Homo sapiens: one gene and its partner. The protein of the gene in region 1 purifies or fractionates together with the protein of each later gene. This does not show direct contact. Each region holds a gene or a part of one and is shown on either strand. Other genes may lie near its edges. The genes, in order: COL9A2 and MPPED2.

Region 1 (3,815 bases):
GCCGGGAGGGGAGGACTCACCTGTCCCTTGGGCCCCGGCTCGCCGGACTCGCCCTGCAGGCACAAGGAGCAGCGGTCACGAAGCCGCGGGGACCCCGGGGCCAGCCGCCGCTCCCCGCCCTTCCCTAGGCCGCGCGCTCACCTTCTCGCCTTTCTCTCCGGGGAGGCCGGCCACCCCTGGGTCACCCTGCAGAGAGAACCACGGGTCAGACGCGCGGTGGCGGCGGGGACGCAGAGCAGGGTTGGGGGTCGCTGGGAACAGGGGTGCTGGAACTCACCACTTTGCCGCGGGGCCCGGTCTTCCCTGGGGAGCCCTGGAGAAAGCGGGCAGTGAGGGGTTTGGCGAGCTCCCCCCTCCACGGGGTCCCCCACCTAACTTTCGGCCACACCCCTCTTTCCAACTCCGCCTCGCCGACCAGACCAGAACCCTGAGATCCGCAGGTTTGGAGGCTCCGGAAGGATCTGAGTCCTGCCGACCCCACTCCCCCTGTTATAGGGCCCCTTTCCCAGGTGTTTCCCAGCCCCATCTGGCACCTTGTCTCCTTTGACGCCTGGCAAGCCTTGGGGCCCTGGAATTCCGGGGGGGCCCTGCTCCCCCTTAGGGCCCTGAGGAGAAAAGAAACCAAAGGAATAAATGGAATGAGGGGCCTGGATATGACGCCCTGCCCACCTTAGCTGGCCTGCACTCACCTGCCTTCCCTGAGGGCCTGGTTGCCCCACTGGACCCCTCTCGCCTTGGTCACCCTGAAATGGAAAGAGAAGGTCACAACCTCAGCAGCTCTCAGCAGGGGTAGCCTCCCGCACCGAGGCCTGGCACCGCATGGTCAGGGTGCCCTCCATTCCTGCTGTCACTGGCAGGGGGTCCTTTCTCCACTTGGCAGACCAGCAAAGCAAACCTAGGCCCTGCCTGGGGAGGCATCTCACGGGCTGCACGGAGCAGATGCTGTATCCAGCAGTGCCAGCTGCCGCAGAGGCCCCCGGGGAGGGGCCATTGTGCCAGGCACTTACCTTCTGTCCCATGATGCCCTGGGGACCAATTTCTCCTCGAGGCCCTGGCTCTCCCTGGAGGAAGGAGAAATTGGGGCTAAGCGTTTGACCTGGTGGAACCCACCCTTCCACACCTGGCCAGCCCCTCCCTACCCTGGGTCTCAGCTAATTTGCTTCATCAGGGAAGGTTTCCCAGACCACCTGTTCCATGGTTTTGGGTCCCTGTAGTTTTCTTTCAAAGGACCCAACACAATTTGAATTACTTATCATGTGATCATTTCTTTCTTTCTTTTTTTTTTTTTTTTTTTTTTTTGAGAGGGAGTCTTGCTCTGTCACCCAGGCTGGAATGCAGTGGCGCGATCTCCGCTCACTGCAAGCTCCGCCTCCCGGGTTCATGCCATTCTCCTGCCTCAGCCTCCAGAGTAGCTGGGACTACAGGTGCCTGCCACCGCCCCAGGCTAATTTTTTGTATTTTTAGTAGAGACGGGGTTTCACCGCGGTCTGGATCTCCTGACCTCGTGATCCACCCGCCTCAGCCTCCCAAAATGCTGGGATTACAGGCGTGAGCCACCGCGCCCGGCGTGATCATTTATTTCATGTCTATTTCTTCCATTAAACTATACCCTCCATATGAAGAGGAGACTCATAGTTGCAAGTGTTTAGTGAATGTTTATGCAATGAATAAATGAACGAACAACTCTGCCTGTTGGATTCCCAGCCCATCAACTTGGCCATCTAGGAAAGTCACACTCCAGAACAGAGCCAGTCCCCACCCTCCCTGCAATGTACATAGGGAAACAGGCCCAGGGAGGAGAAAGAGCTTCCCTGAATCATTGGGTCAGGGCAGAGCCAGACTAACTCGGAGCTCTCCCTAGGTTAGGGCTCCACCCCATGGCCTCACCCTAAAGCAGGAACCCTTGTGTCAGTGCAGGGGGCATTTACCTCTTTCCCAGGGGGACCAGAGAATCCAGGAAGGCCCTGCGGGCCCGGCTCACCCTGCAGGAAAACAGTTCTCAGGTCAGTCTGGGTGGCCCAGTCAGGCCCTTGGCCTCAGGGAAACCCAACGAAGCCTAAACAGAGCCTGGAACCAGATGAGCTGGGACGGGGGAGAGGGTATTCTTGGTTCAATCCTCTTGGCTCCTGATTTTCCTGTTTGTTTCTCCTCTGGATTTTAAGCCATGCCATCCTATCTGCACTGAGGCAGGCTGAGGAGTGCATGATGGGTGGGAGGTGGCAGGAGGGAGGTGGTTAGGCCCAAGGGGCTTATGTTCTGGCTGAGCCTCTGAGACTTGGCTGAGGCCTGGGCCTTGCTGTCTTCCTGGCCCCAGACTTCCTTGCTCAATTCTGTCCCCAGCTTGGGATCGCCTCACCTGGTCTCCAGGGCCTCCTTTTGTCCCAGGCTGGCCTGGCACACCCTGCAGAAAGAAGTTGAAGTCAGTTTCTGCCCTGGCATGAGGGAGCCCCATGCACCTGCTGCTTTGCTTCCCATCCCCAATCCAGATTTCCCCCACCTGTGGGAGCTGAACAACAGAAGGTCCAGCCACGGCATGATGAACTTAACTGTACATTCCCACAGTGGTGGCAGAGGAGTGGGGCACAGAGAATGGCCTGTCTTCCAGGACCTGGGGTCTACGTGGAAGAGATGGATATGTGCTCTCAGGTGCCTGAGCCCATGTGAGTGCACGCAGGAACACAAGTCTGCATGTGTGCACAGAAACAGGTTTGGCCACTCAGTACCCCCACAGGGAGGGAGGGCAGGCTCCCATGGACTGGACTCCAGGAGGTATGGAATGGAGATGGCCCTGAACGATAAGAAGGCACAAAGAGACCAGAAAGGGCATTTCAAACAGAGGGACCAGCAAAGGCCTAAAGGTGTGGAGGCAGAAAAGCCAAGGCCTGTTGAGAAGGGAAAGGACAGAGAGGGGCCATTGCTGATATGGCAGGAGGGGCAGGTTGGGGTCAGATTATGGTGGTCATTGAATGGTAAGATGAGCCATGAAGACAAAGATTGCATCTGTCCTATTTATAATTGTTTACCTGCCACTTAGTATACCTCAGATACTCAATAACTATTTTTTTTTTTTTTTTTTGAGATGGAGTCTTGCTCTGTTACCCAGGCTGGAGTGCAGTGGTGTAATCTTGGCTCAGTGCAACCTCCGCCTCCTGGGCTCAAGCAATTCTCCTGCCTCAGCCTCCTGAGTAGCTGAGATTACAGGCATGAGCCGCCACGCCCAGCTAATTTTTGTATTTTTAGTAGAGACGGGGTGTCACCACATTGGCCAGGCTGGTTTTGAACTCCTGACCTCAAGTGATCCACTCAGCTGAGCCTCCTGAAGTGCTGGGATTATAGGCATGAGCCACTGCACCCGACCTCAATAACTACTTATTGAAGGACTGGACTGAATGACTTTTTCCTGGAGGCGGTGGGGAGCCATGGAAGGTGCTATAGTGCAGAAATGGTCAGATCCCATTTAGCCAACATGGAGGACTGGAATGGCCAAAGAGAAGGCTAGAGTAATTGTCCAAGTAATGAAGCCTTCGCCAGGCCAGGGGCCACAGAGTTGGTAACAAGGCAAGAGGTGGTGATTGAGCAAGAGCCCCGGGTGTGTGTGGATTCTAACCTCATCAGCCACTAGCCCCTGGCCAGCCCCTGTGGCTCCACCTGACACTTACCGCTAGGCCCTGGTGGCCTGGACTTCCGGGCTGTCCCGCCTGTCCTGCACTGCCCTGGGATAGACAGATAACCAAAGATACAAATTAAAGCTCCAGCCAGAGGGCCATGGCTTCTACCCAGATGCAGGTAGGGAAACTGAGATCCAGAGGCAAGAA
Region 2 (3,815 bases), on another chromosome or scaffold:
TCCTGCAGAGGGAAACCAAGGGGAAAAGGAAGGTTAACTCAGTTTCCCAAGGTCAGTGGCTAAACAAGATTATAACCAGCCCTAACCTGTCCTCCATTTCTATAAACACTTCCCACAGTGCTGTTGTCTTCCTTTAAAAATCAACATTGTCAACGCAGCTCGATAATTTCTGTGTTGAAATTCCATTGACACAGACTAGTTCAAAACTCTCAAGATTTACCAACAATAATTTTAACTGCTAATAGTTCATGGATGAAAGTTGCTAAAATAAAGAGATTATTGTAGAGAAAAAAGACATAAGCGAAAAGATCTGGATTTAGAACCAACTCTGCCACTATGAAACTGAAAAAATCACTTAACTTCTCTACATCTCTGTGTCATCTGTAAAAATGAGATTATGCTAAATAATATTTAAAATATCTTGCCATTTTAAATAACATGATTAAGTACCTACTAAAACAGCACAAAATATAAATGCTCCAACATCCAATGCTGCCAAGACCATGATAAAACTAGTACCTATACATTCATTCACTGCTAGTGAAACACACAGCTACAGTGCCCTTGAAAAGCAACATGCCAACATGTAGCAAAAACCATAAAGAATTTCATATCCTTTGACTTAGCAAATTAAGTATAGTATTTTTCCCTAAGAAATAAATCAATAGAAACAAAACGACATACACAAACAAAAATGCACATTTCAGTGCTAGCTACCAGAGGAAAAATTGTTATCAATTTAAATGCTCATTTTTAGAGAGATGTCTTATTAAAGAAAGGCATAGCCAACCATATGAATGCCATGCTGCTATTAAAAAGAATATGAAAATTATGCAAAAACGTTTTAAGTCTTACCAATAAATACTATTAAATGAAAACAGCCAAAAGTCAAAAAGCAGATATGTACTCAGATGTCAACCATACAAAATGTGAACAGATGAGCAAAGTCACATGAAAAATCAAAATAATTATGTTATTAGTTAAGTTTATTGCTTACAATTCTAAAATATCATCTTTCCACTAACACGTCTTATCATTTAATCGAAAATTTAAAAAATTTTCAAACCCTGCTTTAGTTTGATGGAAAACAAAGTTGTAATGTTTTTGCCTAAATCTCCCAAGTTATTTTTGTTGGCTGACATATTATTGACAATGTTACGCTCCCAGAGTGACGTCTGCTCTTTACTATATAATTCTTTCGTCTTTAGGGATTCTAAAATCTCAGAACATTTGCACTTCTTTCCCTCCGCTAAGAGGAACCAGGATCCAATATTTTGCAGTAACTGACCTGTGGGTGCCTCCACAATATCCAGAAAATTGCTATTATCCTTTTTACAGGACACAGGGCAACTTCACATCCCAAGTTTTTACTTTACAGTAATATATCTCATGTTTTCAGGGGTCTAGAACACCCTCCAGCTCACTTAGGAAATCCGCTCCCAAGCAGCACTGTGCTATAGGAATTTTGTTTCATATAAGGACTTTTATAACCCCTTCATTTCTTAGAAATGTTCTCTTACTAGTAGGTCATTTGTATATCTTTGCTTATAATATCTGGGGAAAAAAAGATTGCAGAGCCAATGAATTAAAAATATGATTCTAGGTCTCCTGTGTGCCAATGAATGCCCTCATTAAAGCAGAATGAGTGAGATGAGATGGGTTTCAAAGCTTTCCATCCCTTTGCCCCAGAGCCACCAAGGCCAGGCACTGAAAGGATGCACAGTAAAATTAAATATCTAAAAATTCATCTTTAATTAACAGAATTGGATTAAAGCTAGACACCACCGCATATCATACGAGAAATGGCTGAGCTGGCTTCCAAGTGCTCTAATTCAATTAGGACGCAGTGAGTGACACTCGGACGGGAAAGGTTAATTGGGGCCGCCAGAACGCAATCATTCCTTACCTAACCAGTCATTAAACTTCTTAACCTCTGAGGGCAGTCCCAGCTCGGTGAAATCGCCTGTGTGGAGAAGGATGTCCCCATAAGGCATCTGGATACCATCTGTTCTGGAGTGTGTGTCTGAGATGCAGACAAACCGCGTGTGGCCCGCTGGTTTTGGAGTGTCATATGGGATGGGGTCGACCCTAAAGTAGACATAACAGATCCCATAACAGTTAAACATATTAGAACCCTTGAAATTGTCGTCGCACATACATATTTATTATTATTCGTGAATGCACCCAGACAAACTGACGCAAAGGCAGAAGGGCCCACTGTAATTAAGGACACTTCTGGGTGTAACAGAGACAGCATCACCCATTTACAAACCCACTGGGCAAATTCAAAAGGACTTACTTACCTGGTAGGAAAATTAAAAGGAATGAATATCTTACATATAGATCTGAAATAACCCAGGAAACTGATAGAGTGATTAATGGTGAAGTTTAGGGATACTGAACCTCAACTGGGGAAGCAAAATTATGCTATTTCTCTCTCATCATGCTCCAATTGATCCCACTACTCATTAGGAAATAGATAACTAATTTATTCCTTCTTAAACATGCATAACTTAAGCAATGAACTAATTTACAGAGAGCAGTCTGCACATGCTCTGCCAACTGAGATGTGGAGAGATAGCACTTATATTTAATTTCCTTTCCACAACCATTCAACACCTGTATCTTCTGGTTTTTGCTATTCACAAATCAAACCGTAGGGAGAGAAGGTGATGCCAAAATAACAGAGCTTTAAAAATTAAAAAAAAAAAAAGACACTGGATGTTAAAAGAACTTTGTCAAACTCGTTTTTACTGCGATGAATTATCTGCAGTCCCAGTTACACCTGAGGTTACCAGGAATGCTCAAATGCCTTGGGCAAAGATTCTATTCAGTACAAATATTAAGCCTTTTAATGGGATGTATATATCTACATATACGTTAATATATGTATAGTTTTAGAGACCTAAGCACTGTGAAATTACACCAGGGCATAAGAATCAAAAGGCAAAATGATCAACCCAAAGCAAAGAAAATGAAACAGAACATCCTCATTTAATTGAGTGTAACAAAGTGTACTAAATAAACTTGGTAAAGGAATGCAAATCTGACTCTTCAAGCATACAGTTTTAATTATTTAAGGGGTTTGTCGCAGAGTTAAGGATGCTTTAACTATATTAACTCTACACTGACAGCCTCCTTTAATTTCTCTGTAGGAATGTACACTTATTTTCGGATTATAGGTGAAAAGAAGCAGTTATAAATGCAAAGAGAAGGTCACAAGAGAAGCAAATATGCAATGCAGAGATTAGAGTGTGAAACATTAAATAAGGAACAATATTTCATATCCCAGCCCCAACCCTTGATAGTTAACATGCAGCAGAGAACACACTGAAAGCTCCACACAAGACTCCCTAAACATATTGCCTCTACAGGCTTTGTTTAATTTGTTTTCTCTTTTCCTTTATTTATTTATTTTCTTAAAGAAACAATCTGTTTTAACAATGACAATTTCAGTGAGGGAAATAGAAGAGATCAGTGTGCAACCTGGATAGTCCCACATTTCTTCAATGACTAACCTTTTTATTTCCTCTTATCTGTGTCGGAGAAGGAAAGTAAGAGGAGCAAGAAGGAAGGGAGGAAAGGAGGAGAGTAGGGAGGAAGGAATTGTGAACTGGTTATCACAGTGGGTCTAATTGGAAGCCCAAAAAGAAAGTTTAACTTCCGCAAAAAATTAATGGATTTTTTCTGTTAGAAAGGTTAGAAATTAATATGCTGTTACCACGTAGAAAATTCACTAATCCACTGTGATCTCATTAGTAACCTGGAAACCCTCCTCATTATAGCCGATGTTGCTTTTTTAGATGTAAAAATGT

Evidence for each region.
Region 2: the proteins of COL9A2 (region 1) and MPPED2 fractionate together in Homo sapiens (co-fractionation; one large-scale study listed by BioGRID). This does not show direct contact.

What each region holds. Positions count from the first base shown.
Region 1 is NC_000001.11:40,303,787-40,307,601, forward strand, and holds part of COL9A2 (collagen alpha-2(IX) chain precursor), read right to left. Parts: intron 3,714-3,815; coding exon 3,660-3,713; intron 2,616-3,659; coding exon of another isoform or gene 2,498-2,615; intron 2,402-2,497; coding exon 2,357-2,401; intron 1,983-2,356; coding exon 1,929-1,982; intron 1,062-1,928; coding exon 1,008-1,061; intron 744-1,007; coding exon 690-743; intron 606-689; coding exon 534-605; intron 314-533; coding exon 278-313; intron 187-277; coding exon 142-186; intron 54-141; coding exon 21-53; intron 1-20. UniProt on the Homo sapiens protein: Structural component of hyaline cartilage and vitreous of the eye.
Region 2 is NC_000011.10:30,534,088-30,537,902, forward strand, and holds part of MPPED2 (metallophosphoesterase MPPED2), read right to left. Parts: intron 2,089-3,815; coding exon 1,907-2,088; intron 1-1,906. UniProt on the Homo sapiens protein: Displays low metallophosphoesterase activity (in vitro). May play a role in the development of the nervous system.